7 linked regions of the Homo sapiens genome follow. The protein of the gene in region 1 purifies or fractionates together with the protein of each later gene. This does not show direct contact. Each region holds a gene or a part of one and is shown in the gene's direction. Other genes may lie near its edges. The genes, in order: GXYLT1, KREMEN2, ST14, ITGB4, CLGN, DSC2 and ABHD17B.

What was found.
Region 2: the proteins of GXYLT1 (region 1) and KREMEN2 purify together in Homo sapiens (affinity purification with mass spectrometry; one large-scale study listed by BioGRID and IntAct). This does not show direct contact.
Region 3: the proteins of GXYLT1 (region 1) and ST14 purify together in Homo sapiens (affinity purification with mass spectrometry; one large-scale study listed by BioGRID and IntAct). This does not show direct contact.
Region 4: the proteins of GXYLT1 (region 1) and ITGB4 purify together in Homo sapiens (affinity purification with mass spectrometry; one large-scale study listed by BioGRID and IntAct). This does not show direct contact.
Region 5: the proteins of GXYLT1 (region 1) and CLGN purify together in Homo sapiens (affinity purification with mass spectrometry; one large-scale study listed by BioGRID and IntAct). This does not show direct contact.
Region 6: the proteins of GXYLT1 (region 1) and DSC2 purify together in Homo sapiens (affinity purification with mass spectrometry; one large-scale study listed by BioGRID and IntAct). This does not show direct contact.
Region 7: the proteins of GXYLT1 (region 1) and ABHD17B purify together in Homo sapiens (affinity purification with mass spectrometry; one large-scale study listed by BioGRID and IntAct). This does not show direct contact.

The regions. Positions count from the first base shown.
Region 1 is NC_000012.12:42,099,875-42,103,374, reverse strand, and holds part of GXYLT1 (glucoside xylosyltransferase 1), read left to right. Parts: intron 1-3,500. UniProt on the Homo sapiens protein: Glycosyltransferase which elongates the O-linked glucose attached to EGF-like repeats in the extracellular domain of Notch proteins by catalyzing the addition of xylose.
Region 2 is NC_000016.10:2,962,789-2,967,074, forward strand, and holds the start of KREMEN2 (kremen protein 2 isoform d precursor), read left to right. Parts: upstream 1-1,486; 5' UTR 1,487-1,732; coding exon 1,733-1,826; intron 1,827-2,070; coding exon 2,071-2,245; intron 2,246-3,351; coding exon 3,352-3,443; intron 3,444-3,536; coding exon 3,537-3,661; intron 3,662-3,853; coding exon 3,854-4,007; intron 4,008-4,121; coding exon 4,122-4,286. UniProt on the Homo sapiens protein: Receptor for Dickkopf proteins. Cooperates with DKK1/2 to inhibit Wnt/beta-catenin signaling by promoting the endocytosis of Wnt receptors LRP5 and LRP6.
Region 3 is NC_000011.10:130,158,337-130,162,581, forward strand, and holds the start of ST14 (suppressor of tumorigenicity 14 protein), read left to right. Parts: upstream 1-1,445; 5' UTR 1,446-1,643; coding exon 1,644-1,724; intron 1,725-4,245. UniProt on the Homo sapiens protein: Exhibits trypsin-like activity as defined by cleavage of synthetic substrates with Arg or Lys as the P1 site. Involved in the terminal differentiation of keratinocytes through prostasin (PRSS8) activation and filaggrin (FLG) processing.
Region 4 is NC_000017.11:75,727,959-75,731,458, forward strand, and holds part of ITGB4 (integrin beta-4 isoform 1 precursor), read left to right. Parts: intron 1-418; coding exon 419-515; intron 516-1,306; coding exon 1,307-1,478; intron 1,479-2,282; coding exon 2,283-2,546; intron 2,547-2,916; coding exon 2,917-3,006; intron 3,007-3,287; coding exon 3,288-3,410; intron 3,411-3,500. UniProt on the Homo sapiens protein: Integrin alpha-6/beta-4 is a receptor for laminin. Plays a critical structural role in the hemidesmosome of epithelial cells. Is required for the regulation of keratinocyte polarity and motility.
Region 5 is NC_000004.12:140,393,149-140,396,648, reverse strand, and holds part of CLGN (calmegin precursor), read left to right. Parts: intron 1-443; coding exon 444-557; intron 558-679; coding exon 680-830; intron 831-2,607; coding exon 2,608-2,823; intron 2,824-3,500. UniProt on the Homo sapiens protein: Functions during spermatogenesis as a chaperone for a range of client proteins that are important for sperm adhesion onto the egg zona pellucida and for subsequent penetration of the zona pellucida.
Region 6 is NC_000018.10:31,081,922-31,085,421, reverse strand, and holds part of DSC2 (desmocollin-2 isoform Dsc2a preproprotein), read left to right. Parts: intron 1-2,361; coding exon 2,362-2,496; intron 2,497-2,998; coding exon 2,999-3,184; intron 3,185-3,500. UniProt on the Homo sapiens protein: A component of desmosome cell-cell junctions which are required for positive regulation of cellular adhesion.
Region 7 is NC_000009.12:71,876,694-71,880,193, reverse strand, and holds part of ABHD17B (alpha/beta hydrolase domain-containing protein 17B), read left to right. Parts: intron 1-3,500. UniProt on the Homo sapiens protein: Hydrolyzes fatty acids from S-acylated cysteine residues in proteins. Has depalmitoylating activity towards DLG4/PSD95. Has depalmitoylating activity towards GAP43. Has depalmitoylating activity towards MAP6. Has depalmitoylating activity towards NRAS.

The DNA.
Region 1 (3,500 bases):
TAGGACAAAGGTCATAGTTTATTTATTTGCCTTGCTGTCACCTGGTTCTTACTACTTGTGGCTGTTCATTTCGAACCTGGTGTATTATAGTTATGTATATTAAAAAGTTAAAATAGGTCCAGGTGTGGTGGCTCACGCCTGTAATTCCAAGACTTTGGGAGACCGAGGTGGGTGGATCACTTGAGGCCAGGAGTGTGAGACCAGTCTGACCAACACAGTGAAACCCCATCTCTACTAAAAATAGAAAAAATGAGCTGTGCATGGTGGTGCATGCCTGTATTCCCAGCTACTTGGGAGGCTGAGACAGAATTGCTTGAACCAGGGAGGCAGAGGTTGCAGTGAGCTGATATTGGGCCACTGCACTCCAGCCTGAGCTACAGAGTGACAATGTGAGTGAGACTCTGTCTCAAAAGAAAAAAAAAATTAAAAAATTTAAATTCAAATAATTTAATTTAATGAAATAATTATTAAATTAAATTAAATATTAAATACAACTTTTTAAAAATCATAATTTTTAATCTCATAATTGTATATTTGCTAGATAATGAATAACATTGGTTAAATGATTACGTTCTATTTTGCAGTATCGTATTTGCCGTGTTGAATCCCTATTAGGGTATTTATTTTCTCTCCTTCTAAAAAATGTATTACTGTATTTCTTAGCCTTTTCCTGTTTATTAGAGAAAAACCAAAGAGTATAAATTAGACATGGTGGGAATTTTTTCTTTGTTTACTCTGCCCTTTTCAGCTTTCTATATATTATTTTGTAGAGTATTTTTTTGTCTGTTTGCTCCACCTACTGAGGGCAGGATGTGTCTTTTATACAGCTTTATATTAAGAATATTTAGCACAGTGTCTGACATAAAGTAGCAACTTGATAGATAATTGCTAGCAAAGGAGAGTCAGATGAAGGTTTTAGAAACTAGGCCATTAATGAATTGAAAAATACTGGAAAAGGGAACACTTTGTATGAAGTAGATACAATGCTTTTACATATTTGTAAGATGTATGTGATAAAGAGTTTTCTTGTGTTAGTACATAGCTTATGAGAGCAGAATAACAACAACGAACATCTTGCCAAAGGGGTAGAACTTTTTAAAGTGAAGTAACTAATCTTTGGGAATTGATGAGTTCCCACTTTTTTGTTGGAGCATAATGTGAATGCGCTTTAATTTTATATGTATGTATAGGACAGGCTGATAATGACAGTCCATTCATTTTCAAAGCATGCTTAATTCAAAAAATGAAACTAATTGATCTTGATGTAACATACATGTATTTGGTCATAGGTTTGCTAAATTTTGTAAAATTAGAACTACAGTTTTCTGTTTTAAATGTTATGAAACTAAATTGTGCTTATAAAGATTCAAAAAAGTAATTTTATGTAGAATGAAAAGACAGGTCTCCCCTTGACATATCTCTTCACACTTTCATGCCTCCACCCAGAGTGACACTATAAACTTGGCTATGTGTTCTTTGGACCTTTTAAAAAGTGCATTTTGAGGCTGGGTGCAGTGGCTCATGCCTGTAATCCCAGCACTTTGGGAGGCCGAGGCAGGTGGATCACTTGAGGTCAGGAGTCCTAGACCAGCCTGGCTAATATGGTGAAACCCCATCTCTACTAAAAATACAAAAATTAGCCAGGCATGGTGGCAGGTGCCTGTAATTCCAGCTACTCGGGAGCCTGAGGCATGAGAATCACTTGAACCCAGAAGGTGGAGGTTGCAGTGAGCCAAGATTGCGCCACTGCACTCCAGCCTGGGCGACAGAGTGAGACTCTGTCTCAAAAAAAAAAAAAAGTATTTTGAAACAAGCATAGGTGTGCATTAGCATTTAGATATAGGATTCTTTTATACATCTTCAGCTTTTTTCATTTAGTAAATATATAGTTGACTGACTTCTATGTCATTACACATAATCACATTTTTAATGTGTGTATGATGTGGAGAATGGATGATTTTATTTTCTCTTTTTGTGTGTACCTAGTATGGATATGTAGTTGTATGGCTGAAAATATATTTTAAAATTCATATTTTCTTGACTATACTACCGGTGTGGTTAAAAATCTTTTCTTATAATTTGTAGCCATTTCTGTTTCTTCTTTTGTGAATGGCTGCTTGCCCATATCCTTTGCCCACTTCTTGGTTTTCTCTTTCTTATTGACTTGAACTCCTTTTATATGTAATACCTCTTTATTAAACTCATTTCTCATAGCTTTTCATTGGTTGTCTTGGATAATCTAGGTTATATCATTAGCAAATAATACTAGCGTTATCGCTTCTTTTCCAAATAGTTTTCTAATGGGACTTTTTTCTTTAAGGTTTTTTTCCCTTTTTATTTTTTTCCTAAGACTGCAGTGAACTCTTAATTTTGTATTTCATTGATGCTCTTTGAATAGGTACATTTCTTGTAAGATATATATTCAAATATATATATTTGATTTATATTGGTTTTTATAATTTAAATATGTATCTGTATTTCTGTGTATATTTGAATAGATAGAATCACATGAAGACTTTAACATGGTGTTGTACAAGGGCTCCACCAGTTCTGTCTGTTGAAAGTGTTCCTGGTTTTTGTCCTTGTGTAATTGATATTTTTCTTTTCAGATCCTAAGAATATTTCCTTAACATACTCAATGACTTATTTCTAAGAGTTATCTTTTCAAATTGTTTCCTTAAGTAAAACTTGTTTTAGTCATTTTCCAGATTAAAAAAAATTCTGATTATAATTACTATTTACTGTGTTCTAAGAAATTTCACACAAGGATAATAATGCAGTTGTAGCACATCAATTTAAGTATGTGGATTTTTTTTTTTTCATGAATTCTGGCCTTCTCTTTTTTAAAGGATAGATTGTTTATATCGTCACTGAATTTAATATAAATTATAAAATGACTTATAACAATGTTTCTCAAACTATGGCAAAAGATTAATTTTTAAAAAATTTTCAGTATGTTATGAGCCAATACTTTTGTAAAAGAGAGATTACTAGAGAAATATATTAAGTACACATAAAACTGTTAACTTGCTGTAAAAGTTTCTAAATCTTACTCTTAATTTCTATACTTAATTACTTAATCTTATTGAGGACATAGAAAAAATTTACATAGTAGCACACTATGTGAACTGCTGTGAACTGCACTATGAAGAATACTGGTTTTTACTCTGGATAGTCCCCGAGTCACATAGATCTAAAAGGCCCGGTATTCACTTCTACCCCTTCCAACACCAAGTTCTCATTGGACTCAGTTTCTTGCTCCCTTAAGTATTTAACTTTGGGTTTTCAAATAACAAGTTTTGAGCATTAAGAAAAAAGCATTACATTCAGTATCTGAAAAAGCACTAAATTCAGTATCTTTTTTATTTTAAAAAAGCATAAAATATAAATTGATAGATTATTAGTATTATATTTTTATCTCATTTCAAAAGGCAGCATTGTGCTTAATGGCTAAACAGTAGGAGCTTTCCAGTTAAAATGAAGATAAGGATATCTATTAA
Region 2 (4,286 bases), on another chromosome or scaffold:
AGGACTTCACTGAGCCCCCGCCAAGAGAAACCGGGCAGACAGGTGGTCCCGGATGCTCCCTCGTCGGGAAGCGCAGTTGGGTTCCAGGGAGCCCGTGGGTGCTGGAGGCCCCAGCTCAGGGCTCAGTGAGCCGGGCCAGCCTGGCCTCTGAGAGGGCTCCCGGAGGAGGCGACCAGGACCCTGGCCTAGAGTCTCAGCAAGTCCATCTCCTTCAAATGCCCCCACCTCGGCTCCACGCCCCTCCTCCAGAGCACACTCGCGTGAGGCGCCAGCTGGAAGATCCTCGCGGGTCCCAGCACCGCAGTGGGTGCCTGGGCCTGACAGAACCTCCCTGAACCCCATCTTTCTTCTCCATCGACACCGGGGCAGAGACGGTGTGGGGGCTGCAGGGCGGGGACTGGTCGGCCTGGGCTCGACAGCTTGGCGAGGGCCTGGTGCGGGCTGGGCAGGCTGGACTGAGGGGCAAAGAGGTCTGGGCGGGGCGGGGCCGCTCTGGGCGCCCGGCCCCCACCAGTTCCTTCCCCCGGCCCCCGCCTCCGCCCTCCCACGCACCTGCGCTGGCCTCCCCCCAAGCCCTGGGGGCAGCGGGCGGGTGGCGCTGGGAGATCAGAGGACTCGGAGGAGTCGGGCCCAGGGGGAGGGGGCGGGGAATTTCCCCCCACGCCTGCCTGGGCCTGCTCCCCTCCCCCTCCCCCGCCAGGTGGGGGGCACGGCTGGGGGAATTCCACTGCAGTGTGAAGGCTCGGGAGAGTCTGGGCTGGGGGTCCCAGGGAAGGGCGGGGCAGGGGGAGGAGGAGGGGACAGACTGGGACCTGGGGCGCAGCTGCCTTTCTCCCCAGACACCAGCTGCCCCTGCCTGTCCCGGACTGAGCGTCCACGACTCCCGCCTGTCTCGTGGGCGCGGGGGCAGGGAGTGGAGCTTCCTCCGTCAGGCCAGCGGCATCTGGACCAGGGGCGGGAGGGGCGTGCGGATCCGAAGAAAGTGTGCGCGTGAGCGCCTGGCAATGAATGGGAGAGAGTGCGAGCGCGTGCGTGCACTGGGAGGAGGGCGCTTGTAACTCGGACATTCCGGGTGTCCTGGGGCGCGTGCGACCACGTGAGGGGGTTCTGTATCTCCCATTTTAAGGGCCTTCCGTCCGCTTGCCCCGCCTGTCCCCCTCCACACCTTCCCACTTGAACCGGCACCGACCTGAGGGAGAGGGGGCCGGGAAGCGCTGGACGCCCGGGGTCGGGGGAACGGGCGTGGGAGGCGTCTGGACCTGCTGCCTCCGCTCCAGTGCTGGGCGGGGCTTCCCGGCCTCCCATGGGGGGAGGGAGAGACCCAGGGGGAGGGACCCACGGAGGGATGCGAGGCGGGCAGGAGTCAGCCCGTTGGAGACCTGGGCGAGGGAGACGCCGAGAGCTAGGCTCAGTGGGAGGGGGCGGGCGTAGAGGCTGAGGCACCGCCCAGAGCTCGCTGAGACAGAGACTGAGAACGCCCCCGGCCAGATTCCCCCCGGAGAGACCCGGGTAGGGACAGGGACAGAGAGACGCCTCTAGGGGCAGAGGCCCTGGGAGGCAAAGACCCCCAGGAGAGATTTACCCACCCCAGACGGAAAGCGCGGCTCAGAGTCGGACGAGGGGAGACTGTCAGAGGACAACGCCCCCTAGGTCTCCTGGGAGACCCCGAAGCGACCCCGGGGGCAGCCCGGGCCGTGTCCGGGCGAGGGTGACCTATCCTTGGTTGAGAGCGATGGGGACACAAGCCCTGCAGGGCTTCCTCTTTCTCCTCTTCCTCCCGCTGCTGCAGCCGCGTGGGGCCTCGGCTGGGAGCCTGCACAGTCCAGGTAAGTCCCCGCACGGCTGTCGGGCCGTGTTCACCACCCCTTCCTCGGCCTCCGCCCCCAGGGCCAGGCCCCCAAGGCTAGGGAGGGGGACAGAGCAGGTGGCCGGAGCAGCTGAGCAGCCCGAGGGCTCCTGCAGGGGCGGGTGCGGGGTCGCTGGCTGGGGACCCAGGCGGGAGGTGGCGTAGGGGCGCGAGGATGCCCGGCGTGGGTCCGGACCTCCCCAGGCCCTGCCTTTGCCGTGCAGGCCTGTCCGAATGCTTCCAGGTGAATGGGGCTGACTACCGCGGCCACCAGAACCGCACTGGCCCGCGCGGGGCGGGCCGCCCGTGCCTCTTCTGGGACCAGACGCAGCAACACAGCTACAGCAGCGCCAGCGACCCCCACGGCCGCTGGGGGCTGGGCGCGCACAACTTCTGCCGGTGAGGGGCGGGGCCTGCGCTGGGGGCGAGGCTGGGCTCACCATTGCAGGGATGGCCCGAAGCGGGGCCTCCGTGCGGGCGGGGTGGAGGTCTGCCGTGGACTGGCAGCCCAGCCTCCTGGAGAACCTGGGGGCGGGGCCAGAATGAGGGGCGGGGCGGGGCGGGGCGGGGCGCGCGGAACCCTGGCGCAAAAGGGATCCTCCTCAGGTGAACAATTTCTGCAGAGCTCCAGTTCAGGGCCAGGAGAGAAACGGACCTGGGCACTCAAAGGACCCGTATGGGCGGGGCCTGGTCAGAGCGGGGGCCGAATGGGCGGGGCCTTGTCAGAGTGGGGCTCTTGTCATACAACTTATTTTGGGGTTCAGAGCCACAGCTACGGTCTGAGGCAGGATGGACCCAGCGGGAGGAGAGCCGCAAAGCTCAGGAGCTCACTTCTGCTTTTAAGTGGGGTTGGAGGCCAGGCGCGGTGGCTCAGCCTGTAATCCCAGCACTTTGGGAGGCCAAGGCAGGCGGATCATCTGAGGTCAGGAGTTCGAGACCAGCCTGGCTACCATGGTGAAACCCCATTTCTACTAAAAATACAAAAAATTAGCGGGGCATGGTGGCGGGCGCCTGTAATCCCAGCTACTCAGGAGGCTGAGGCAGGAGAATCGCTTGAACCCGGGAGGCGGAGCTTGCAGTGAGCAGAGATCGCGCCAATGCACTCTAGCCTGGGTGACAGAGCGAGACTCGTCTCAAAAAAAAAAAAAAAAAGTGGGGTTTGAGGGACGGAAGTGGCTGAGGCCCATGCCGGGTGGGGGTGAAGAATACAGATGGCCTCAAAGTCCTCATATATGGAGTCAAGTCTAGCAACAGCTGAAGCCTAAAAACAGCTCTCAAGTCCCCTTTAATGACTTCCCGCTGTCCACTCGGAAGTCGACGTCCAGTTCCTTCATCAGGCAGAGTTCTGCGTAGACAAAACTGGAATTTGTGGGTGTACAGCAGGCAGCACAGCCGCTCACAGGCACAGAGCCTTGAAGGCCACTTTGAGCATAGGCTGCGGGGCCGGGCCTGGGTTTGCTATTCTTGGGGTGGTGGGAGCCCCACCACCTCCCTCCCACCCGCAGTAACCCAGACGGTGACGTGCAGCCGTGGTGCTACGTGGCTGAGACAGAGGAGGGCATCTACTGGCGCTACTGCGACATCCCCTCCTGTCACAGTGAGTAGCGCGGCTGGACAGAGGTGGGAACGCTGCTGCATCTGGGAGGAGGGTTGTTTTCGGAGTCACGGAAGTCTGACTCTGCCCCCTCAGTGCCAGGCTACCTGGGATGCTTTGTGGACTCAGGGGCACCCCCAGCCCTCAGCGGCCCCAGCGGCACCTCCACGAAGCTCACGGTCCAGGTGTGCCTACGCTTCTGCCGCATGAAGGGGTACCAGGTACTGCTCACGGGCCCAGACCAGTGACCCCTGACCTGGACCTAAAGACCACACTCAACTCCCAACACTCGGTTGCCAAACCCAGACACCGGTTTCTGAACCTCCAGCCCGATTCCCACCCCGACCCCAGGCCCCCACCACTTCACCCCTACCCCAGCCCCTGCCCTGGGGTCACCCAGTCTGTGCTCCCAGCTGGCGGGCGTGGAGGCCGGTTACGCCTGCTTCTGTGGCTCTGAAAGCGACCTGGCCCGGGGACGCCTGGCCCCCGCCACCGACTGTGACCAGATCTGTTTCGGCCACCCTGGACAGCTGTGTGGCGGCGATGGGCGGCTGGGCGTCTATGAAGGTGAGGAGTGGGCGGGGACCAGGGGCCTGGGCGGGCCTCGAGGTGGGGCCTGGCCGGGCAGGGGAGCCGCCGTGTCCTGGTCCTCAGGATGCTGACTGCCGGCCCCGCCCGCAGTGTCGGTGGGCTCCTGCCAGGGGAACTGGACAGCGCCTCAGGGCGTCATCTACTCCCCGGACTTCCCGGACGAGTACGGGCCGGACCGGAACTGCAGCTGGGCCCTGGGCCCGCCAGGCGCCGCGCTGGAGCTCACCTTCCGCCTCTTCGAGCTGGCCGACCCGC
Region 3 (4,245 bases), on another chromosome or scaffold:
AACACTAAAAAACCCCATCGGTGTCTTCGACCCAATATGCGGAAGGAGTATGAAGGAGAAGAGCTTCCAGGGGATGAAAAGCTTTATGAAAGCTGCCAAGATCAGAACGCCTGGCTGGAGAGAGGGGCTCCAAACAGGAATGCTTGGAGGCACGGTGTTAAGGGAGGACAGGGCAGAGTGTGAAGCTGGGCTAAGGAGGTTGGATTTGATCCGGGAGACACGGAAAGTCATAAAGGAGCTGTGGTTTCAGATTTACCTGACTGCTTTGTGTAGGAGAGATCAGAGGGTGGCAGCCCAGAGGCAGGAGATCTTTCTTAACCAGGCAAAGGGCTCTGAGGACTCGAATAGCGGTCTTCTAATGCGCAGGAATGGAAGGGCTATGCTTGTCAGCAGAGTCTTGATCAGATTTGGAACTAATTGGATATGAGATGTAAGCAGGGTGGAGAATCAAAGATGATTCCAGGATTTGAGCCTGGGAGAATGCTGCCATTAGAATTAGAGAAAACAGTGGAAAATGGGCAAGTCAGGGAAGGAAGATGGGGCTTGTTGATCTCAAAGCAGGGATTTTTATTTTGTTCACTCCTGTTTCCCTGTACCCAGGACAGTGCTTAGCGCCTAGTGTGTGCTTGGTAATGTTCATTGGCTACAGAATACAGTAGAACATAAATGGAGACGTCCCCAGGCGACCGCTAAGGCAGAACTGGCACTCCTTGGTGGTGTCTGTGCTGGGAGGGAGGTCTTCCTGTCTGAAGTCGTAAGATGAGACGTGCTGCCAAGAGAAAAAGCTTAGAGAAGAAAGGGATGAAACTGAAGGGAGAACTTTGGGAATCATGACATTTAGGACTAGAAAGGAGGACCGGAATCCAGGGAAAGGGGGCATTTGAGGAAGCATCAGATGCTGCAAGTGGGCGAGGGGCGTTGGGATGGCTCAGAGGGCATCTGGTGGCACAGCTCATGTCACTGGGCCTCCCCAGGGTAGCCGGGCGCAGGCCAGCAAGCGCCTCCCGCCTGGAGAACAGGAGGCTGCGTAGCCGACGGGGAGCCTGGGCCAGGGGCGGTTCTGGTTTCTGTTTGGTTTTGGGGGGTTCATAAATGCGATTTAGTCCTGTAGCAAAGTGAGCAAGGTGAAGGGGAGAGACCGGAGGCGCATGAGGGAGGAGGGAAAAGATGGTTGGCATCAAGGAGGTGGATAAAGGGCTGCCCTCCCGGGGCAGGGCCCCTGGAGGGCCGGAGGGGTGGTGAACGCCGTCGTGGTGATGGTGAGGGCCTTAGCGACCACCACCCGAGTGAGGCCCCCTCACCTTCAGGCCCAGAGCCGAGGGGAGGAGCCTCCCCCAGGGCCGGCGGGGGCGGGCAGGTGAGCCGGGCAGGTGCGCAGGCGAGCGCGGCGGGCTGGGCGGGCCGAGGCCACACCCTGAAACTACCTGCGTGGGCCGGGCCGGAGTGTGAGAGCGGAGCTGCAGCCGGAGAAAGAGGAAGAGGGAGAGAGAGCGCGCCAGGGCGAGGGCACCGCCGCCGGTCGGGCGCGCTGGGCCTGCCCGGAATCCCGCCGCCTGCGCCCCGCGCCCCGCGCCCTGCGGGCCATGGGAGCCGGCCGCCGGCAGGGACGACGCCTGTGAGACCCGCGAGCGGCCTCGGGGACCATGGGGAGCGATCGGGCCCGCAAGGGCGGAGGGGGCCCGAAGGACTTCGGCGCGGGACTCAAGTACAACTCCCGGCACGAGGTGAGCGCGGGCCGGGGACCCGGGGCGCTGGGAAGCTCCTGCCCGCCCGACCCTGCAGCGCGGCGCTGGGCTCGGCCGGCTCCCCTGGCGTGTCCGTCGGTGGCCGAGCTCTGGGCGCACAGGTGGAATTTCCTGTTCAGCGGGTGCCGGGCCGCGGGCGGGCGGGGCTGGCCGGACCTTTGGTACCGGACCGGCTGCGCCCCGCCAGGGGGAGGCGGGAAGCCCCTGGGCCTTCCTGCGCCCTCGGTCCTTTCTTTCCCTGAGTTGAAAAAAGGGGCTCCGTCTCGGCCCCTCCATGACTCTCGCGCTGTTAGTGAACATCTGGAAGAAACCAGGGGCTTGGAGTGGGGTTATTTGGGAGGAAGTGAAATTTCAGGAGGGTTTGGAGTCTCAGCCATCCTTGGCCTCTGCAGAAAGTTTCTTTCGTCTCTCTCCTTCCCCGTCAAAAGGCGCTTTGGGACCTCGCAGAGGACAACTGGGAGGCCAGGGCTTTGGCTGCCATACGGGCTGGAGCTAAGAACTCCAGAGTTGGGCTTGCCTGGGCTTCTCGAGAGGGGATGGAGCCCTTTGGGAAGGCGGCTGTATGGGAAGGGATGTGGGAACACACATGTCTTGAGCCTTTTGCGAAGTACCGAAACAGGAAGCTCTTCTTTGGCAGAAAGAACAATGAAAGACCTATTGAAAGATCTCAAAAAGATTACATGTTCCTGTATGGAGTTGGGGATGGGTCGCTAGTCACTTCATTGACGGACCCACCTAGGTGGTAGTGCCCGGGCGGGACCAGCAGCCAGGTCTCTACCCTCTCTGTCCAAGGCAGACCCCCAGGTTTCCTGGAAGGCCAGGGCATACCAGGTCAGGGCGGCGCTGAGAGGCAGGGGCTGTGTGGCAGAGAGTTTTGCTCCTCTGCAAATGATGGCCTCCCTGCCCTGCCAACCCTCACTTTCTCCCCTCCTTCCGGGTGCCCCTGGGCTCCATAGTCTCCGCCGTTGCTCCCTAAGTCAGGCCTGATTTTGGTGCTGTCTCAGATCAATTCCTTTTGTCCAAGCAGCATCCCGACCTAGGGAGCTTGCAGAAAATCAGACGCTGGGGCTTTGGAGGCTGCCTGCACCACAGACAGGACCTGGGGCTGGGCTCTGCTATTTTCTCCACTTTTCACCCTCAGCAAGGAGGAAAGCTTCCAGTGGACCTGAAGGCTTGGGCCCTTCCCCTGGCTGTGCCTGTGCCCTGCTGTGAGGCAGATTCACCTTCTCTTCCTTGCTGTAATTGCTATGTTTGTGTCCTTGCTAATTGCCTACTTGGGGTTCTAGACTCCCTGCCTCTTCAGCAGAGAACCTGCTGTTTGGAATTTGTTATTTCAGGGCAGTCCGGTGCCCCCACCCCAAGTTTGTTCTCCCTGACTTCCCTTTCTAGGACTCTCCTGCCCACACGGGGAAAGCAGGGTCTTCCTGGTCGTGTGGTCCAGCCTCCTCTCTGAGCCATCTCACCACCTGACAAGCAGCCAGGCTGGGGCTCACCTTCCACTCACCCCCAGGATCCCACATTCAGCGGACTTGTCTTGTCACCTGCAAGCCCTGGCTTTAGTTTCCCCCATCCCTGCTCATTTCCTCCTCCTCTGCGAAGCTCATTTGCTCTCTGCGCCCTTGGGCTGTTCCTTCCCCCTCTGCCATTTTCATTCTCTTGGCTTGCTCTTTGTCTTTTCTCCTGCCGAGCTTTATTGAACTAACTCAGTACCTAGTCCCATGGGTGAAGGGAAGGCTCTCAGAGACCAGTAAGATGTGGTTGTTTCCTTTAAAGAACATCCAGTCTTGAGAGCGAAACTAAGAGACGAATGCCAAAGTTAGCTGTGAGGCGGAGTGTCCAGAGGAAATTGGCCAAAGCTCATTTCCATGTCTTGCAGATTCCTCCCATCCCTGGCCTCACCAGAAATCCCAGTCCCTGGGATCACCCTGTAGTGTGTGTTTGCAGCTAGGATGTCCATCCCCGGCCGGGAGGTGTGGCTGCTGCCCCTGGGTTTATTATCTGGGTCAGCAGAGCCTGGCCCACAGGGTGCTGTTGTTTCTGGGTTCCTTGTCCCCAGTTGCATCCATCCGTGCACCCTTGTTTGGTGGTATTTGTATCTGGCTGTCCCCTTCCCAAGGCTGGTGGTGTGGCCCCTGCCCCACCCCTGCTGTTCCCATCAAGTGTTCTGCGTGGCCTTCAGAGTCCTGATGCACGTTACTGCATCTGGGGATGGTGTGAGCCCTGCCTGCAAGCAAGCAGGGAAACAGATGCCACTTCTTATGGCCATTAATGAGAGCCAGGGAGCCTGCCTCCCTGAGGGTCTTGATTCCTGTTGAGTATTTGATGGTGAATATGAAGCTGCCTTGACATCCACTGGTTCCTTTTCCGATCACAATTGCCCTAGGTAAGACTCAGCATCCCTTAGGCATCCAGAGACCAAGTTTGGAAAAATCGGATGTTGTGTGGCCAAAATCAGATGTCTAGGGGCCAGGGTGTACACCTCTGGCTATTCAGAGGGTCA
Region 4 (3,500 bases), on another chromosome or scaffold:
CACTGGACATTTGAGCCCCCAAAAACCTTCCCTTCCATTCTCAAGGGAAGAATCTCGGTCAGACCCTACTCACCACTGGGGACTTCTGAGAAGGCCCAGGGCAGGCGGGCAGTGGAGCCATCTGGCCCTGACAAGGAGGGCACCCCCTGCCACGAGGCTGTGGGGAAGCTTCTGCTCCTCAGAGCTGGGCTGCATTCCCAGCCACCCTGCCCTTGCTGTACGCATAACTCCAGACCCCCAGTCCCATTTCCCTCATCCATAAATAGGAACAGACAATGTTGTGAGCATGAACCTTTGTCCAGCATGCAAAGCGTTAACCTCCCTCTTCCTCCCTTCTGAGCCAGCCCTTGGTGGGGGGCCCGTGTTTATGCCAGGCATCAGGGCTCAGCTATCCCCTCTCTGTCCTTTTGACATCCAGCTCGGGTCCTGAGCCAGCTCACCAGCGACTACACTATTGGATTTGGCAAGTTTGTGGACAAAGTCAGCGTCCCGCAGACGGACATGAGGCCTGAGAAGTAAGTGACTGTGTGGGTCCCGCAGGTGGGCAAGGGTCCAGGCCATGTGACCCCCACTCCTCTTTCACCCACAACTTAAAATTATCCTTCTACGGCTGGGCACGGTGGCTCATGCCTGTAATCCCAGCACTTTGGGAGACCAGGGCGGGCAGATCACCTGAGGTCAGAAGTTCAAGACCAGCCTGGGCAACATGGCAAAACCCCATCTCTACTAAAAAATACAAAAATTGGCTGGGCGCGGTGGTTCACGCCTGTAATCCTAGCACTTTGGGAGGCCAAGGCGGGTGGATCACGAGGTCAGGAGATCGAGACCATCCTGGCTAACACGGTGAAACCCCGTCTCTACTAAAAATACAAAAGATTAGCCAGGCGTGATGGTGGGCACCGGTAGTCCCAGCTACTCGGGAGGCTGAGGCAGGAGAATGGCGTGAACCCGGGAGGCGGAGCTTGCAATGAGCCAGGATTGCGCCACTGCACTCCAGCCTGGGCGACAGAATGAGACTCTGTCTCAACAAAAAAAAAAAAAAAAAAAAAATTAGCCAGGTGTGGTGGTGGGCGCCTGTAATTCCAGCTACTTGGGAGGCTGAGGCAGGAGAATCACTTGAACCCAGGAGGCAGAGGTTGCAGTGAGCCAAGATCGTGCATACCGCACACCAGCCTGGGTGATAAAGCGAGACTTGGTCTCAAAAAAAAAAAAAAAAATTCTCCTTCTAGTTGAAACGAGCCAGGGGCACTGGGGTCTGCGGCGTCTTCCCCCTGTGACACTCTCTCTCCCTCCCACCTCTGCCCAGGCTGAAGGAGCCCTGGCCCAACAGTGACCCCCCCTTCTCCTTCAAGAACGTCATCAGCCTGACAGAAGATGTGGATGAGTTCCGGAATAAACTGCAGGGAGAGCGGATCTCAGGCAACCTGGATGCTCCTGAGGGCGGCTTCGATGCCATCCTGCAGACAGCTGTGTGCACGGTGGGCACTGGGAAGGGTGCTGCCAGCCTAGGCCAGGGGTGAGCACTTCTGGGCAAGGGCCTGAGCTGCCCCCTGGCCTGCTCTGGTGCCAGGCTCACAGGCCCTGAGGGAAAGCCTGGGAGCCTGCAACCCCTTCACCCTGAGACAAGCTCAGACTCTGTGAGTAGGTCTCAGTTACAATCTGAGTTCAGATGTGCCTGGAGCCACGGTCCCCTGGCCTGAGCAGTCACAGCCTGGTTTCGTATCAGCTACCAAGGCAGACCTGGGCTTTAGCGTTCTGGAATCTTTAGTACCCTGAACCCACCAGCTGCCCAGACTCCACCTGTTCTGGGCATCCAAATAAGCCATTTCCTTTGATATGTACATCCATTTGTTCATTCTGAAAATGACATACCCATATTACTAGGTTAGAAAACAAAGAGCTAGCCAAGGCGTGGTGGCTCACACCTGTAATCCCAGCACTTTGGGAGGCCGAGGCGGGGGGATTGCTTGAATTCAGGATTTGAGACCAGCCTGGGAAACATGGCAAGACCCTGTCTCTACAGAAAACACAAAAATTAGCTGGGTGTGATGCACGCCTGTGGCCCCAGCGCCTTGCGGGGGCCGCATCTCCAGCTCCTGTTTCTCAGCGTTGTCACTCAGTCATGTGCCGTCAGATGCATCTTTCATGAGGGCACTTGCTGTGAATCCAGTGGCTTAAGCCCAGCCCCATGTTGGGACCCGCGTTCCCCGTCCTACACGACGCCGTGATGCGTGTCAGCAGGCAGCCTGCTCAGTGGGCACGCCCCGCCTTGCCTTCCCCAGAGGGACATTGGCTGGCGCCCGGACAGCACCCACCTGCTGGTCTTCTCCACCGAGTCAGCCTTCCACTATGAGGCTGATGGCGCCAACGTGCTGGCTGGCATCATGAGCCGCAACGATGAACGGTGCCACCTGGACACCACGGGCACCTACACCCAGTACAGGACACAGGACTACCCGTCGGTGCCCACCCTGGTGCGCCTGCTCGCCAAGCACAACATCATCCCCATCTTTGCTGTCACCAACTACTCCTATAGCTACTACGAGGTGCGGGGCCCAGGTCCCACGGGTGGGAGGTGGTCAAGGTAGGGGGTCCATGGAGCTTCTCAGACACCTCTCCCTCCCTCCCTCCCTCCCTCCCTCCCTTCCTCCCTTCCTCCCTCCCTCTTTTCCTCCCTTTCCTTCCTCCCTTCCCAAAGCCTTTAGACCCCCCAAAATGTGGGCCCTAGTGGGAAGGGGAGGTCATGTGCCCATCTTCCACCCCAACTCCCAAGCAGGTGGGGGCTAAGAGGGCAGGCTCTGCGACACCACAGTAGGTTCCAGGCCTCAGTTTCCCCATCCTCAAAGTGGGAAGAATCCTAGAGCTGTTCAGATTCATGGAGATGCTTAGCCTGAGACCTGGCCTTCTCTCCCGCAGAAGCTTCACACCTATTTCCCTGTCTCCTCACTGGGGGTGCTGCAGGAGGACTCGTCCAACATCGTGGAGCTGCTGGAGGAGGCCTTCAATGTGAGGGCAGCTCAGGCTCCAGAGTCTGAGCCCTTCTGGGGCAGGGCAGGAAGTGGGCAGGGTGGGCAAGAGGTGTCTTGGATCACGGTGGAGAAATGGGTCTGGGACAGACCAGTGAGGAAGGGTCTCTAGCTATCCCTGAGGCCCCGAGGGGCCACCTGGGCCTGGCCCTGGCTCCTGCAGGCTCTGTGATACCCCGCATGATGCCAGCCACACTTGGAGGTTGGGGTGGAGCACAGAGGCCCCCCACAGAGCACTGATCAACCTCCTTCCTCCTTTAGCGGATCCGCTCCAACCTGGACATCCGGGCCCTAGACAGCCCCCGAGGCCTTCGGACAGAGGTCACCTCCAAGATGTTCCAGAAGACGAGGACTGGGTCCTTTCACATCCGGCGGGGGGAAGTGGTACGCCTCTGTGGGGGCAGCGGGGTGGGGGATAGGCACAGCGCCCCACACCGAGTGGAATCGTTTAAAACAGCGGTCAAGAGCGTGGCC
Region 5 (3,500 bases), on another chromosome or scaffold:
GAAGGCAGAGGTTGCAGTGAGCTGAGGTCGCACTATTGCACTCCAGCCTGGGAAACAAGAACAAGACTCCACCTCAAGAAAAAAATAATAATAATGGAGCTCCTCGAACAGTCTTGACACATAGTAAGCATGCAATATATATTTGTTGATGAATGACTGAGTTTTTAAGTAACAAAAGCAAGGTCTAATACATTATGTATAGAATGCTATCATTCGTATTAAAAAAAAGAATGTATACGTGTGTGCATGTATGCATAGAGCACAACAGGGAATATGTACCAAAAATTGGCAAGTTAGCAAAAGATTTAGGTGGGTAGTAGATGAGGACAAATAACAGGCACAAACAAAAGGGAGGGAAATAATTTTATGGTACCTTCTTAGTGTTGTAACATGCATTTTTAAACTTTCTGAATAATTAGTAATATAAAACGTTGTATTTACAGGGATGAAAGTGAACCTGCCCAAATAGAAGATTCAAGTGTTGTTAAACCTGCTGGCTGGCTTGATGATGAACCAAAATTTATCCCTGATCCTAATGCTGAAAAACCTGATGACTGGTAAGCACTCTTCATCTTCAAATGTCGATTTCAAATGTTTCTTACATGCATTTTTGTTACTAGTTTATATGACTGATCTGAGACTTGAGGTTACTGTATTTGCTTTGTTTTAATATCCTAAGGAATGAAGACACGGATGGAGAATGGGAGGCACCTCAGATTCTTAATCCAGCATGTCGGATTGGGTGTGGTGAGTGGAAACCTCCCATGATAGATAACCCAAAATACAAAGGAGTATGGAGACCTCCACTGGTCGATAATCCTAACTATCAGGTAACAACCGCTTGTTCCAATTATTTAGTGAAGTTAAAAATGTTGTGATCTTTTCTATTTAAATATCTAATTACCTATGTCAACTTTTGGAAGTTTCATTTTTAATTTTAAGATGTCAAAGAAAATAGACCTCAACTAATTTATATTTTAAAAGTAGAGCATCAATTATTTAATTTTCTGGGGAAATAAATCACTTCATACTATATTCTTCCCTAATTATCAGTTGATGCTCACTTTGAAATAAAGTTCTATTTTAGAAGTAAATATAAGAAGTGAATTTTGATCAAATAGACTCATATTGTACATTTTAGTAATTAATGCCTGTGCTTAATTAATGTACTTATTATTTAGTATTATTAAAATTCTGATTTTTGGCCAGGTACGGTGGCTCATGCCTGTAATCCCAGCACTTTGGGAGTCCAAGGCGGGCGGATCACGAGGTCAGGAGATGGAGACCACCCTGGTCAACATGGTGAAACCCTGTCTCCACTAAAAATACAAAAAATTAGCCAGATGTGGTGGCGCACGCCTGTAGTCCCAGCTACTCAGGAGGCTGAGGCAGGGGAATCTCTTGGACCCTGGAGGTGGAGATCGCAGTGAGCTGAGATCGTGCCACTGCACTCCCGCCTGGCGACACAGCAAGACTCAAAACAAAAAAACAAAAAAACAAAAAACCTGGCCTGGCGTGATCTTGGCTCACTGCAGCCTCTGCCTCCTGGGCTCAGGCGATTCTCCTGATTCACCCTCCTACGTAGCTGAGATTACAGGCACACCCCAGCACGCCCGGCTAACTTTTGTATTTTTAGCGGAGACGGGGTTTCACATGTTGGTCAGGCTGGTCTCGAACTCCTGACCGTGATCCGCCCACCTTGGCCTCCCAAAGTGCTCAGGTTACAGAAGTAAGCCACCGAACCCAGCCCTGATTTTTTTCTGATATCAATCGACATCTTTTGAGTGTACCTAGCTTTTTATATTAAAAGTTTCTATGTTATCCACTTAACCCTCTAGTTTTATCTTTGTAATTATTTATGGATACGTTCTAACATTATATATATGCAGTTTCATATTCTAATTACTCACTGTAGTTTTTATTAAAAGCATTTAACACAAAATGTTTCTTTTGGTAAATTTTTTTGTTTGATGTCTGTCTCTTTTATTTGACTTTAAACTCCATAATACAGGAACCATGTATGTCTCCATCATCTGGCATAGTGCCTGGCCCAGAATACATACATGTGATGGTGGAGTGAGTCAGTGAGCAATGATATTGTTGAATGTATTTGATTTAATGGACAGTTTAATCATTTAAGATCTAATGGAAGTTTTAGGTTGAGTAGTTGTGCCGAGATTCAACCATACCTGATTAATGATATCTGTCATGGGTATATGTTAAATGGAGTAACTCCATTTTTGCTATACAATGATCTTTCTGATTTGGACAACTTGAATAACATTTTGCAATGAATAACTTTACTAAATCTAAAAATTTGTCCAAAGTAGACAAATTGTGAAATTTATTCACGTTTCTGTTTATGTTGGATTTTCCCTTTTCCTTTTCTTGCAGAATTTAAAGTTAGTATCACTCGTAGGGAACATTGTGTACACAGCAAAAGAAACAAGATTTTATATCCAGTATATTACTAATGAATTAATATCAGTTAAAATTCTCTTTTTTCCAGTTAGCATTGCGAATTTCATTCAACAGCAGCTACTTATTAAGCAGCATTTATAATGAAGTTATTTTATTTGAAAATGTCTTCAATTACTTTTCTTCCAGGGAATCTGGAGTCCTCGAAAAATTCCTAATCCAGATTATTTCGAAGATGATCATCCATTTCTTCTGACTTCTTTCAGTGCTCTTGGTTTAGAGCTTTGGTCTATGACCTCTGATATCTACTTTGATAATTTTATTATCTGTTCGGAAAAGGAAGTAGCAGATCACTGGGCTGCAGATGGTTGGAGATGGAAAATAATGATAGCAAATGCTAATAAGGTATGGTGTTGACCAATAGCAGTAGTGATATAACTATGAATAATAATACTTGGTCTTGGTTGTAGGTTATTCAGATGGCTCTTTTAAATGCAAATAAATGTGCAGTAACTACTAAATGCCAAGGAAATGTGTTTGAATAAGTTTATGTAGACAGAATATTTTGCTTTTTATGTTACTTCATTATGAGCTATATATGCATATGTAAGTCCTCATTTTATTCATTAAATTATAACATCACTAATGGGATTTAATGCTTATTTACTGTTCATAGAAGAAGACTACTTAATATCTTTGTCATCTTGCCAGTTCAAGACCTAAGTGACAATGATAATCTAAATATTACTGTTTATTTAACTATTTTTTACTTAGAGGAATGTACAAAGAATTTATAGTTTAACATTATTAAATTCTGTTCCAGTTTTTTCCCGAAACCTTAACACTGTTTAGAAAAGGTTGGGCTAAATATTTCAACACAATGCATCTTAGAAAATGTATCATTAAATTCAGTTGCTATAAAGAAAAATTCTTACCTTACATTTGGTTCCTTGGGTCACTAGCGAAAAACCATCAAAAGAGTAGGTGAAGAGGGATTCTTGTTTTGAACCTCTTGTAACTAAAACATTTGATTTTTTAAATTTTATTTTAATAAGAGAAATAATATCCTTACTGAGGGTCTT
Region 6 (3,500 bases), on another chromosome or scaffold:
ATAACAGTAAAAATTGTTACACTTTTTCTTCTTTTTGTACTTACAAAATAAGTACATTTTCCAAAACAGTACAATTTAGTGGGAAGAATGACATTGTTATGCATTTTTCCAAATGTTTTTAGTATTTTGCTTAAGACAGGTGGATTCTCATATCTCCTTCTGCATTTAGTCTGTTACAATATGTAGTTTTAGCTGAAGCATATATAAAGGCAATCTGACATGATATAAAATTAGAAAAGAGAGTAGTATTTTGATGATAATTACAGATCACTGTGGATATTATTCCTTGATACTACATGAATACTTGATAAGGAGTAGCTTGTTTCCTAAATGTTTTTGGTAATGTGGACTCTGAATCCTCAACAATGACCTTTTGTACTTTATTACGTTAAAATCCATTGCTCTATCTTACACTTTGAGTGACCATTTTACCAGTACATCATTCTATATTGTGCATTGGTCATTTGGAAAATATTGGTTCACCAAGTAATGCAGAGCTTCCAAATATTGACACATTGCATTAAATAATATCAAAAAGATCACCTCTTTACTTCCATTGATATCACATTGGTTGATAAAGGTTTTCCAAGCTTCTCATTTTTGTTTGAAATCTCCAATTTATCATTGGCAACAAATAGTTGTTTTCCCTGAAGTGACAGATTAACTTTATGTTTTACAAAATACTTTCATAAAACTATAGTCTGCATAGCCATAGATGTCTATGTGAAAATAGCATTCTATGGAAAAAAAAAAAAAGCAAAAACTCAACAGCTTGTTCAGCTCCTAAATCAAACAATCACAGAAGTGCTTTTCTTTGAATAGATTCTTCTGAAATAATCAGTTGAAAACACTTGTCCAGTGAAGGTGTTTATCCAGTGGTGCTCTCTAGTAACTTTTTGACCTCAGGATTCCGGTTTTCTTCAGTTGCCTACAACCTTTTAGTCCCTTTAAACATCAGAATTTCTCTTCCATCTGAAGATAGCATAAGTTAATACTTAGGGTATCAAACTTCATTTCCTTGTTTCATTAGCCAGTTAATTATTTCCAATAAATTTTAGTTCACTACAAACAAAATATGTATTCCTTCTTGAAAGTACAGTAGCATGATGTTTTAAAATTTTTCAGTTGAAATAAGGCCATTATTTTTCAAGTCTACACATGTGATTGGTTATGAGGGAGGAGTAAATCTGGAAAATTATGTGTGTTAAAAGCAGGAAGATCAAGAGAAACTTTAGTTTTATTTTAGATAATGCCTAAGGAAAAGAAAGTTTCAGAGATGATGGAATTAAGGGAAGAATCTTTGTAAGAGAAGGGTGAACATTCTAGGTAGAAGATGAGGATAGATTTTAACATGCTATTTTGTCTTATGAAAAGAGATAAATTAGGTAGGAAAGGTAAGCATCACCATCTTATAGAAGAAGAAACCTAGACAAAGTGAATTTTCCAATTGCCCAAGATTGTGTCTCTTATTTTTGGAGTTGGAAATAGAACCCAAGTCTCCTAATGCTCAGTCCGGAAAGCATTATTACTGTATTGTTTTTAATTCTCCCATATCTCAATCACTTATGATAAATGAAAGTTATAAGGAGAAACACTTTAAAATATTTAAATGCTTCAGATGTTTAAAAATATTTTTTAAGGTAGTGATGAGTTTTCAACAATATCTGATAAATTGAAAGCCTTAAGAGCCAGATTCTATTTTCCACAGAAAGAAAAAAACCTACATAGCCCCAGACCTTTATCTTCATGTCAGTTTAGATGATCTCTTAAATGTAACATAAACCCTTAAAATCTATATTTTTTGCAGGAAGAAATTTCATTTTATTGTTTTGTTAAAAGACTATTTTAAGAGTCATTGCTGTCTATTTTTTTGAACATAAGAATGTACTTTGGCTAGGAGATAAAGGTTTTGATTAATTACCAGGCAATTTTAAATGCACTTGTGGCAAATAGCTCTTCTTTTTCTGTTGAATAAAGACAAAACCAATTGAATCTATATTCTGTAAGTTAATAGCACTATAAATTTGAGAAACTATTCAATTTTCATAAATTGATTAAAAATTCCTAGTGTGATTCTCCTGCCTCGCTTGAACCCGGGAGGCAGAGGTTGCAGTGAGCCAAGATCACACCACTGCACTCCAGCCTGGGCAACAGAGCGAGACTTCGTCTCAGAAAAGAAAAAGAAAGAAAAGAAAAGAAAAATTACTAGTGAGAGAAAATTCTTCTAATACACGAATGCTGTGAAATGTAATAATGCACTTCTTAAATTCTTAGTGCAAAAAAATTATGGAGTGTAAAGTAAGATTTCAATTATAATGTTGGTGCTTTCCCCCAATAATTAAATTCTTTTTTTGTTTTCAGTTAATTGACAAGTACCAGTTGAAAATAAAAGTACAAGACATGGATGGTCAGTATTTTGGTCTACAGACAACTTCAACTTGTATCATTAACATTGATGATGTAAATGACCACTTGCCAACATTTACTCGTACTTCTGTAAGTGTATGATATTAATTAAAGAAAAATGTATAGACCAGTTTTAATTGTTTAATATGCACATCTCTGGCCTGGCGCAGTGGCTCACGCCTGTAATCTCAGCACTTTGGGAGGCCGAGGCGGGCGGATCACCTGAGGTCAGGAGTTTGAGAACAGCCTGGCCAACATGGTGAAATCCCGTCTCTACAGAAAATACAAAAATTAGCCGGGCATGGTGACAGGCACCTGTAATCCCATCTACTCGGGAAGCTGAGGCAGGAGAATCGCCTGAACGTGGAAGGCAGAGGTTGCAGTGAAGGAAAAGAAAAAAATGCACATCCCCATCCACCCCTCATGATTTCAAATGAAGTGCCCCAGTGACATTAAAAGTTGTATAGTGCTAGGGTTTCAAATCATGTAAACATAGTACTTTGGAAATTAGAAGAGTAGGATTTACTTCACATCGTGTTCAATTTTTGTGAGAGTTACTAACGAAATTTTTTGTTTGCTTTTATTATTTTAGTATGTGACATCAGTGGAAGAAAATACAGTTGATGTGGAAATCTTACGAGTTACTGTTGAGGATAAGGACTTAGTGAATACTGCTAACTGGAGAGCTAATTATACCATTTTAAAGGGCAATGAAAATGGCAATTTTAAAATTGTAACAGATGCCAAAACCAATGAAGGAGTTCTTTGTGTAGTTAAGGTAAGAATAAATTAGAACATTATTTGTAGTTTATAATATCATAGAATAGCATGCTAGAATTTAATGGAAAGAAAGGAATTCTGATAAATGTAGAATAAAATAGGTATATAAGTAAATGCAAATGCTCTGTTCTTCATATACAATGGAAAGAATATATTAGTTTTTGATAATCTTTTGTTTAGGTATTTTTTTTTTTAAAAAGTCCATATAATACAATATCTATTTTGTAACCAATATCTTTAAATGGTTCAAAAACTAGCACAGCTTTGATGCCCCTGGGACAGTGCCAGACTTTTCCTAGCCCAGTTTTTCTGTG
Region 7 (3,500 bases), on another chromosome or scaffold:
AGGTGGTCTTTGATTTCCCTTTGAAGTTCTGATGGTTATTTGCATATTCTAGCCTTTGTGCCAATTTTGTCCTTTTATATTACTCAAGAAGTGCGTGAGTTTTGTCTAGGTTATTTATTGACACATGATATTCTTTCATTTCTAGAAACTATGTCTGTAGCTCAAAGTCCTTTTTCCTTTAGTACATTATTTCGTTTATTTTGCTTATCTCTTTCTTGTGATCAGTCTTGTCTGAGTACCCTTTCCACAAAACAGTAGTTATGAGTTTGGGTTACAGAGTCATTCTGTCATGTATCAGTTCCATTGATCAGATTTGTGACATTAGGCAACTTATGTAACTATTCTATGCCTCTGTTTTCTCAATTGCAAAATGGGTGTAATAATAGTCCCTAAAGCAGAGGATTGTTGAAAGGATTAGTTAATATGTGAAAAGTGTTTAGAATAGTGCCTGACACTTTGTAAGTGTTCAGTTAATGCTATTTGCTATTAGTAGTAGTGGAAGCCTTTTCTGAAATCAGCTGTTGGTTCTCCATTGCTTTTTGTTCTTTGTTTTGTTGATATCTGCTCTTAATTTTCTTTTTCTTGTTTTCTTTTTGTTTACTCTCTTCTTAAGTTGGACACTAATATTTAAAGCTAGACTTTTGTAATGGATAATTGTAACTCCTTTAGATGTGCCCTGCACTATCATTTTTCTGATGATTATATCTGACTTATTAAGAGTCATGCTTATATTCAGGCTTTTCTTCTATGTCTTAAGCTTATCAGTATCAGTAGCATCCTCAACAAGTCAGGTACCCCAGCACATTTTTACCTCTTAAGTAGTCTCTCTTTTGTCAATCCTCTTCGTATTCATATTCACCAAAGTTTTTGTTCTGGATTTTTAGGGATATACTTTGTTGTCTTCACCCTCCTTGCTCCCATTGCTCACTTGTACAAAAAACATTGTATTAACTATTCTCCTTTATTTCTCATATCTCAGATATCTCATAGAAGTCCCTTGGGATTTGGGGGGTTTTTGTTTGTTTTGTTGTTATTGTTGAGACAGGCTCTCACTCTGTAGCCCAGGCTGGAGTGTAGTGGCTCTATCACAGCTCGCTGTAGCCTTGACCTCCCATGCTCCAGCAGTCCTCCCACTCCAGCCACGCCAGTGGCTGAGATTACAGGCACACACTACCATGCCCAGCTAATTTTTGTATTTTTTATAGAGATGGAGTTTTGCCATGGTGCTCAGGCTGGTTTTCAATTCCTGGGCTCAAGCAATCCTCCTACCTCGGCCTCCCAAAGTGTTGGGATTATAGGTGTGAGCCACTGTGCCTGGCCTTCCCTTGGATTTATCTCCTTCCCTCCTTGCTGGAGTTTTTCAAAGAGAGACTTGATTTGGTTAAGTCTTACGAGTTTTTGTGGGCCTGCAGATCTCTCTCTCTCTTTGTTTTTTTTGATAGAGACAATGTTTTCCTATGTTGCTTAAGTGGTCCTCCCATCTTGGCCTCCCAAAGTGCTGGGATTACAGGAGTGAGCCACCACACCCAGCCCAGATACCTTTATCCTTATATTAAAACTGTATTTTTGTTCTATGTACAATTCTAGGTTAAAAGTTTGATTTCATCTTTAGCTTAAAATTATCTCTCCATTGTCTTTTGGCTTCCAGTGTTTATATTAGAAAGTCATATGTTCATCTGATCTTGTTCATTTTTAAGTAGTTTGTTGTTTTTTGGTACACTTTGAGGTGTTTCAATCTGACTTTTTTTCCCCCTTTAATTCTGAGAAATTCTTAAATAGTCTTATCTTTATTTTCTCCTGGAACTTCTATAGTATGGATAGTGATATTTCTACTTCTATTTCTATCTATTAAATTTTGTTGTTTTCTGTCTCTTAATTCCCACAAAAAAATTCCATATTTGCAAATTACTCAACCTGATCTTTTAGCTCACTGATGTGTTTTTCAACTGTTAACTGCTCAAGCAATCCACTGCGTCTGGCATGAGTTTTATAAGAACAAGTTGGACTTGAAATTATCTAAGTTTAACAAGCTATTTCAGTGATTTTTTTTTTTTTTTACAGAATAAAATGTTTTTCTTCAGTAACTTGCTCACACTATACTAAAACCTAGATTTATTTGTTTTGTTTATAGTTTTTGTGAAATTTTTCAGACTTAAAAAGTATTCAATTAACTTTTGAAAGTAGGTCTGTGTTGCTGCCCTATACCAGGCCTCTTATTAGGAAAGTGATCATTTGCAAGTTGTTGTCATTAAATAAGCCCCAGTTATCTGGCTTTTGGGCAGTGGAAGAGGGGAGTCATTCTGTCAGCATTAAGGAAGTGAAGTTGTCATTAAACTAGACCCTGGCACTGCAGTTTTTCTCCTTTCTGCTTCTCTCCTTTGGTGTTCATCCCCAGAAACTTCTTCACAGCATTATATATGTTCAACCAGCCAGCTTTATTTCAAAAGTAGTTTATTATAGTGTATGAAAGTTTTTCTGCTGGGTGCGGTGGCTCATGCCTGTAATCCCAGCAGTTTGGGAGGCCAAGGCAGGCAGATCATTTGAGGTCAGGAGTTCGAGACTAGCCTGGCCAACATCATGAAACCCCATCTCTACTAAAAATACAAAAATTAGCTGGGCATGGTGGTGTGTGCCTGTAATCCCAGCTACTGGGGAGGCTGAGGCAGGAGAATCACTTGAATGTGGGAGGCGGAGGTTGCAGTGAGCCAAGATCGCACCACTGCACTCCAGCCTGGGCGATAGAGTGAGACTTCGTCTCGAAAAACAACAACAAAAGTGTTTCTGGCTAAGAGATAAATTATAGGACTATAGTCTAGATACGTACCATTTACTTATTAAGCTTTTTAAAAGGCTATTGTGGCTCAGCAGTCAATGGTATATGAGGTAATCAGGGTTGACAAATAACCATAGACAGATATTAAACAGACAGCACTGATATTATACCTTGTACCTCATCATCTTTCTGCAGGTCATTTCCTCCTCTGGAACAGATCCTTTGAGTTCCTTCCCTTTCATCTTCTTCAACAGACACTTTATCCTCCTGACCAGGATAGTAAATTTGTAGCCAGAGTCTATAGTAAACATCACTAATTTATCACATCTTTTGCTGGCTAAGCCCTGTGTATGCCTTAGAATCATTCTCAGCACAACACTTCAGGAAGCCCTCAGTTAAAGTTAGCAGATGACACTTAGTTGTTATTTCTGTCCTATTTCTTGTTCCAACCAGAGTAAGCCATTAACTTATTCAGGCTGTATTTTGAAGCCTAAAAAGAAATAAAGGTAGGAAGCAATTAAAGCATTTCCTAATATCCAAGATGTTTTTCTGCCCTTCCCTCACCTTTTGAAGTCTTTTATGTTATACCTACCCTTGTTCCTCTCTTCCTGTGCTTTTTTCTGCTGCTTCTTATAAACACATTTATACTGAGCATTATAGGATATATTTGATTCTGTATTGAGTGAAAAGGGCATTTTTTCCCCCAGATATTCTCAACCATTTAGTC